Linked DNA regions of Homo sapiens. The protein of the gene in region 2 purifies or fractionates together with the protein of the main gene of each other region. This does not show direct contact. Each region holds a gene or a part of one and is shown on either strand. Other genes may lie near its edges. The genes, in order: SIDT2 and CLCN6.

Evidence for each region.
Region 1: the proteins of CLCN6 (region 2) and SIDT2 fractionate together in Homo sapiens (co-fractionation; one large-scale study listed by BioGRID). This does not show direct contact.

Annotation. Positions count from the first base shown.
Region 1 is NC_000011.10:117,185,137-117,188,948, forward strand, and holds part of SIDT2 (SID1 transmembrane family member 2 precursor), read left to right. Parts: intron 1-993; coding exon 994-1,087; intron 1,088-1,447; coding exon 1,448-1,500; intron 1,501-2,241; coding exon 2,242-2,313; intron 2,314-2,491; coding exon 2,492-2,563; intron 2,564-3,571; coding exon 3,572-3,690; intron 3,691-3,812.
Region 2 is NC_000001.11:11,809,021-11,812,832, reverse strand, and holds part of CLCN6 (H(+)/Cl(-) exchange transporter 6), read right to left. Parts: intron 1-3,812. UniProt on the Homo sapiens protein: Voltage-gated channel mediating the exchange of chloride ions against protons. Functions as antiporter and contributes to the acidification of the late endosome lumen.

The DNA.
Region 1 (3,812 bases), on a different chromosome or scaffold from region 2:
CCTCCCAGGTTCACGCCATTCTCCTGCCTCAGCCTACCGAGTAGCTGGGACTACAGGTGCCCGCCACCACGCCCGGCTAATTTTTTGTATTTTTAGTAGAGAAGGAGTTTCACCGTGTTAGCCAGGATGGTCTCAATCTCCTGACCTCGTGATCCACCTGCCCCGGCTCCCAAAGTGCTGAGATTACAGGCGTGAGCCACCGCGCCCGGCCAGGGTGCCTCTCTTACATGGATTATTTATTCAGCAAATATTTATGGAGCACCTCCTATATGCCAGGTGGTATGCTAAGGCAGCAGTCCTTGGTGGGGGCGGGGTCCTGTCTAGAGGAACAGGAGGCAGTTAAGAGCTGTGGTGAGCAAGGAACAGGTCACTGTGGAAATACAGGACAGAGAAAGCTTCCTAGAGGACACAGTCCCTGAGCTGTGGTTTGAGGGTTAAGTCAAGGTGGAATTTTTGAGAGGCCAGGCACGGTGGCTCACGCCTATAATCCCAGAACTTTGGGAGGCTGAGGCAGGGAAATTGCTTGAAGCCAGGAATTCAAGACCAGCCTGAGCAACATAGCGAGACCCAATCTCTATAAAAAATAAAAAAATGAGCCAGGCGTGGTGGCACACATCTGTAGTCCCAGCTACTCAGGAGGCTGAGGTGGAAGGATGGAGCCTAGGAGTTGGAGGCTGCAGTGAGCTATGATCGTGCCACTGCACTCCAGCATGGGTAACAGAGTGAGCCCGTCTCAAAAAAAAAAAAAAAAAAAAAAAAGTAGAAGAGAAAGTTCTAGCCCAGGGAGCAACATGAGCAAAAATAGGAGTGTGTCAGAGTTTGGTGTATTAGAGGAACTGCCAGTTGTTCATACTGGCTAGGCAGGGCCTTACATTTGAGGGGAGAAGGGTGAGAGATTGAGCTGGGTGGAGGAGGACATGAAGGCCTTTGGGTGCCATGATGGGAGGTGGTGGAAGGTTTTGACCTGTCCACCTTCCTGTTTCCTCCTTGAAGCTGAGGCATACGTCAGTGGGATGCTCTTTTGCCTGGGTATATTTCTCTCCTTTTACCTGCTGACCGTCCTCCTGGCCTGCTGGGAGAACTGGAGGTAAAGTGGAACTGCTGGGCCTCCCCTGGTCTGGGTGGTTTGGGCAGGTGTGTGGGGCAGATCACCTGGCAGGATCTGAGCCAGCCTAGGGTAATCTACACCATCCATAGCAGATGATGGTGGGGCTGTTAGAGTCTGTGGCCCATGAGCCTCTCTAGAAACCATCCCCTCCCCTCAACCTTCTTCCCAAGCAGGGAGATCCCATGTTGCTCCCCAGCCTGTGAGGAACCCTGGGACAAAGGGTGGAGGACAGGGTCATAGCGATGAGAGTGGAGCAGAGAGGTAGAAGGAAAGTCAGCCCCATACAGAGTGATCCTTGTCCTGTCCCATCTGGGTGGCCTGTGGGTTCTGTCCATGCAGGCAGAAGAAGAAGACCCTGCTGGTGGCCATTGACCGAGCCTGCCCAGAAAGCGGTACCTCCAGGGGGCCTGGGTGGGGCGGGCACAGTGTGCTTTGTGTTTTGGGGGGTGGTGGTGGATGGTTCCCTAGGGGGTTGGAGGAGGAAGGGCTGGGGGTTTCTGGATGTTCAGATGGGGGTAACACTCCACAGATGGGAATGAGGCTGGGATATGATGTCCATGCATCCCTAACATGCACACCTCAGAGGCTGAGGTGTTGCTTGGTTTATTCCATGTCTAGCGATGGTGTCTGCCTGCCTTGGGCAGTGTGGCCCACGGTCTCTGGGATTATTAACCTTTCCTTCTCTCTCTCTTCCACCCCTCCCTCTCTTTCTGTCCTCCCTCCTGCGTGGGACCTTCTCTCTTAGCTTCTCTCCTTGGTAAGCTCCAGGTGCTGTGGGCAGAGGAGCTGGAGTCCAGAGTAGGGGAGGGAGGGTGCAGCACAGGGCTGTCTGGAGGGCTCGTGGGCGGGCCAGTGTTGTCTTTGTTGCTGGTAACTTAGATGTGCCTGTTCTTGAACTTTCTCTCTCCTTAGGGAAGACAAAGGGTGGTGCTGTTTCCATGGGAGAGGCAGGCAGGGGGCTGGGGCGGGTGGTGGTGGCAGCAGTGGGGTGTGTTTGCCTGGATAGGTGCTGCTTCTCGTCTGCTGGCATGGCCTCCCTGTGGCTGTCTTCTCTGGACCTTTCTTTGTTCTTCTCCCTGGCTCTAGGCCTCTCTCTTCGTCCAGTGCTAACAGACCTTGACTTCTCATTGCAGGTCACCCTCGAGTCCTGGCTGATTCTTTTCCTGGCAGTTCCCCTTATGAGGGTTACAACTATGGCTCCTTTGGTACGTGTCAAAGCCAGCACCGTGCTTGCTGGGGACATGACCTTGTCTCCTTAGGCCACCACCTCCGAGGCGGTAAAGTGGGAGCCACCTCCTCCAGCCCCCACACCCTCTGCAGATGCTCAGAGCCCCTTTCCCTGCGGCCTCTCCTTCCTGCCTCACCACTGATCGTTCCCCACAGAGAATGTTTCTGGATCTACCGATGGTCTGGTTGACAGCGCTGGCACTGGGGACCTCTCTTACGGTTACCAGGGTGAGTGGGCCAGGCTGGGAGGGGCGGTGTGGTGCAGGACGGTGTTGTCTGGGTAAAATGTCACGGTGGGCGGTTGCCTCTTCTGCCAGATGCTGGAACCTGGGAAGGGCCTGCTGTCTTCCTAACCCCTCTCTTCCCTCATCCCCTCCTCCTTGGCCCCAGTTCCCTGGTAACTTTCCCTTTCCTTTGAAGGGCACGACCAGTTCAAGCGGCGCCTCCCCTCTGGCCAGATGCGGCAGCTGTGCATTGCCATGGGTAGACCTGGGGTGGGGGTAGGGCTGTTTTGCCAATCAGTGCCTGCCGGCTCCGGTTGACTGCCGGCTGTGGGGCCAGAAAGATTCTATGTGCATGGCTTCCCCATGTAATTCCAGTAATTGCCCGCTCTTGTGTCTTCTGAGATAGCAGCAGAGCACAGGCTCCTTTGGCTGGCGGGCTGGCGCCTCCGCTCTCTCCAGGCTGGACAATCTAGTTTATCGTCTGCGTTGCCAGCGCCCTCACTCCCTGGCCTGCTTGGGGAGGGCTCACAGGCATGGGGGTCACATTCTGGCCTCTGGATAAAGGAGAAATGCTCTTTCTGCACCCCAGGCCCACTGGGTCTTTAACCCAGTGGCAGCCAAGGCAGTGTCTTCTCAGAACCCACAGGGCTGGGCACCCTTGAATCAGCATGACTTGCCGAGTTCAATCCTGTTGTTTGTGTCTGCTGCCTGGGGTCTGCCTTGTGTCCTGGCCTGGGAAGCCCTAGCCCATGAGGGGTGCCAGGAACAGAGCAAAGCTAGAGCGGCCCCTGTGTGGTGGCCTCTTCTAGAGTCTACCATCATCCCCCAGGACTTAGGAGCACCTGATGTCTCCTCCCAGCTCCTGAGCCCACTTCCACCCCAACTCTGAGGCCCAGCCCACAATTTGCCTCTTCCCTACTGCCTAATAATTGTTACAATTGCCTCAGATGGGCGAGGGCCACTGTGGGTTTTGTGTCCACCGGTGCAACCCCTCCCTCCCTGCCCTTTCCAGGCCGCTCCTTTGAACCTGTAGGTACTCGGCCCCGAGTGGACTCCATGAGCTCTGTGGAGGAGGATGACTACGACACATTGACCGACATCGATTCCGACAAGAATGTCATTCGCACCAAGGTCTGACCCGTGGGCCTGGCCTGGTCAGGCGTTTCCTGAGAAAGGGACATTCTGCGTTCCCGCCCCAGCATGTTCCCACTGACGTGGCATTTAGGGAAGCAGAAGGAAGGGGCTCAGCTGGG
Region 2 (3,812 bases):
GATAAGGGAACGGCAGAGAAGAGCCTCATCCTGTGCTTTGGGAGAGACAAAGTGTGAGGGTGGAGAGTTCAGCATATCAAAGCACCATATTTCCAGGTATCATTTTCTGAGCCCCAACAATACACACACACACACACACACACACACACACACACACACACACACACAAACATACTTTGTCTTTTTTTTTTTTTGAGCCGTGGTATCTTTTGTTTGCTAATGAGATGAGTGGCGGCTGGGGGCCCTTAGATGGCTTCAGAAAAGGGGCTGGTCACCAGAAAGACCAAGGCAGGATTAGCGGGGTGGGACACCCATCCCTCCAGGGAGGAGACCGAAGCTGAAGGTTAAGCTGATCACCAAGGGCTGGTGATGTAATCAATCATGACTGCATAAAAAAGCTTCCATAAAACTCCAAAATGACAAGGTTCAGAGAGCTTCCAGACAGCTGAACCGTTTGGAGGTTCCTGGAGGGTAGCGTGCCTGGAGAGGGCATGAAAGCTCCGTGCCCCCTCCCACGTTCCTTGAATCTCTCCATCTGGCTGTTCTTCTGTATCCTTTATGATATCCTTTATTAATAAACTAGCAAATGTAAGTAGCATTTCTGTGTTTTCTGACCCGCTCTAGCAAGTTAACCAAACTCAAGGAGGGAGTCCTGTGAACCTTCAATTCACTGCCAGCTGCTGAGAAATGCAGGTGACAACCTACTACTTTTTTTTTTTGAGATGGGGTCTTTCTCTGTCACCCAGCATGGAGTGCAGTGGCATAATCTCGGTTCACTGCAACCTCCAACTCCTGGGCTTAAGCCATCCTCCCACCTCAGCCTCCTGAGTAGTGGGGAAACAACCTCCACATATCGGTGTTAGCAGTGTTCCGCGAGTGGTGCCTGAGAGCAGAGGAGAAACAATACCCTTGCCTTCATCCAAAATATGTATGGAAATTACTGGTCAAGTACTTCATTGATGGTTCCATCTAATAATGATATGGTTCCGTAAACATTTAGAAGGTTTTTAGATATCTAGAATAGGCAAATAGACAGAAAGGAGATCACTGGTTGCCTGGAGTCAGGGGCAAGGAGAACAGGCAGTGGCTGCTAATGAGTGCAGGGTTTCCTCTCAGGTGATGAAAATATTCTAAAATTGACTGTAGGAATTAGCTGGGCGCAGTGGCTCACGTCTGTAATCCCAGCACTTTGGGAGGCCAAGGCGGGCGGATCACCCGAGGCCAGGAGTTCAAGACCAGCCTGACCAACATGGAGAAGCCTCGTCTCTACTAAAAATACAAAATTAGCCGGGTGTGGTGGCAGACGCCTGTAATCCCAGCTACTTGGGAGGCTGAGGCAGGAGAATCACTTGAACCCGGGAGGCAGAGGTTGCAGTGAGCTGAGATCACAACATTGCACTCTTGCCTGGGCAACAAGAGCGAAACTCCGTCTCAAAAAAAAAAAAAAATTGACTGTAGGAATGGTTGTACAACTCTGTGAATATACTAATTTTTAAAACCCCATTGAATTGTACACTCTACATGGGTGAACTGAATAGTATGCCAATTATAGTGCAATAAAACTGCTAAGAAGGGCATTTAGAAACAACCGCAACGCTAGAACACCAGAATCCCTTTTTTTTTTGTCAGGGTCTCGCTCTGTCACCCAGGCTGGAGTGCAGTGGCGTGATCACAGCTCTCTGCAACCTCCGTCTCCTGGGCTCAAGCAATTCACCTGCTTCGATCTCCTGAGTAGGGGGGACCACAGGTTAGCCACCACACCTCGTTAATTTTTTCGTATTTGTTGTTGAGATGGAGTCTCGCCATGTTGCCCAGGCTGGTATGAAGTCCTGGGCTCAAGTGATCCACCTGCCTCAGCCTCCTAAAGTGTGGGGGTAACAGGTGTGGGCCACTGCACCCGGCCCCCTGCTAATTTTGAACAAATTTTTTTGTAGGAACAAAGTCTCACTTTATTGCCCAGGATGGTCTTGAACTCCTGGCTTTAAGCGATCCTCCTGCCTTGGCCTCCCAAAGTGCTGAGCATATAGGCGTGAGCCACTGTGCCACGCTTCTTTTTTTTTTAAATAAATTAGTTGAGTTTGGCCCTTTGTAAATATGTACCAATGGAATATATGAGCTATTATTAAAACCAGATACTGTTACTTCTCCTTTGCTATGACTAACTTTTTATTTCTGCAGTATATGTTGCTCTTTGGTTTAGGGGACTAACAACTTTTTAAAAAAATAAAATGTTATCTGTGTCTTGCAGGGCTGTTACAGGGGGTTACGAGCAAAATGGCACCTGGCCGGGAGGGAGGTGGGGGCTGAACCAGCCCCAATTCAACCAGGAAGGGGCATCTTAGTGTTCACACCAAAACCACCTTCAACTGGTTGTGAGCTAGGGGTGCTGCTATGGCCAGTGGGGGAGGCCTTTAATTCTAAGTCTTACGTTCTGAGTGTGCCTCTTTCTAATTCAAAGGTACAATATAAATAGACTGTGTGACCTGCATGAAAACATTCCTGTTTGCAATGGCACATCTCACAGAAAGTTACCATTTTTCAAACCACCTATAATGAGAATGGATGTCAAAATGGGATTCTAACATTTTGTAAGACCCTAAATTTATCAAATAAAGAGTCAAATATGTGCAATGAACTCTTCCTGAGACAGGAAGAAGGGGCACTTTTTAGAAAGATATTCAACAGAAGGGTTTTCTAGTTGACTGACTATCAAGGTAGAGAAAACCCTATAACTCCATTCATTAAAATATGACTATTAATACCTTACTAAATATCCTTCTACATCCTTACCCACGTTTTTATACACATGCTTTTAACACGTGTTTTAAATAACAAAAATGAGATTCCACTAAATCAACTATTTTAACCTGTCCCACTCACTCCCCTCTTTATTATACTTTTTGTGTCAAGTTGATTTATTTATTGAATAAATAAAATCCAGACTTTTCTGTTTAAGTGCCTGAATTTGTTCTTACACAAAGCAAGTGCTCTCAAGAAGCTCATTCTTGAAGATGGTTGAGAAATATCAATGACCAATATCAAAAGAACATTAACCCATGAAATGTACATGAATATGGCCACGCGTGGTGGCTCACGCTTGTAATCCCAGTACTTTGGGAGGCTGAGGTGGGTGGATCACCTGAGGTCAGGAGTTCAAGACCAGCCTGACCAACATGGTGAAACCCCATCTCTACTAAAAATACAAAACTTAGCCAGGCATGGTGGTGTATGCATGTAGTCCCAGCTACTTGGGAGGCTGAGGTAGGAGAACAGCTTGAACTCAGAGGCGGGGGTGGAGGTCGCAGTGATCCAAGACCGTACCACTGCATTCCAGCCTGGGCGACAGAGTGAGACTCTGTCTCAAACAATGACAAGAACAACAAAAATTTACATGAATATGCATATCAGCTGAAGGCAAGCACATTACAAATGTAAGTACAATTTAGTAGAAGGGGTGAGGGAGCCTGGGTGTCAATGGGGAAGCCTTGGTGAGCTCCTAGAAGTAGGATGAAGGCTGTGAGACAGTCTCAGTCCTGGTGATACAGTCAGGATGATGTAACAGGGTTCAGTGAGGGAGTGCAAGGTGACAGAACAATATGGAGTATCTTATACTAATTCCTGCAAACTTCTCAACTATGTACAAGAAAACAAATACTTACGAAACAGAAGAAAATGGCCAGGTATAGTGGCTCATACCTGTAATCCCAGCACTCTGGGAGACCGAAGCAGTATCACCTGAGGTCAGGAGTTCGAGACCAGCCTGGCCAACATGGTGAAACCCTATCTCTACTAAAAATACAAAAATTAGCCGG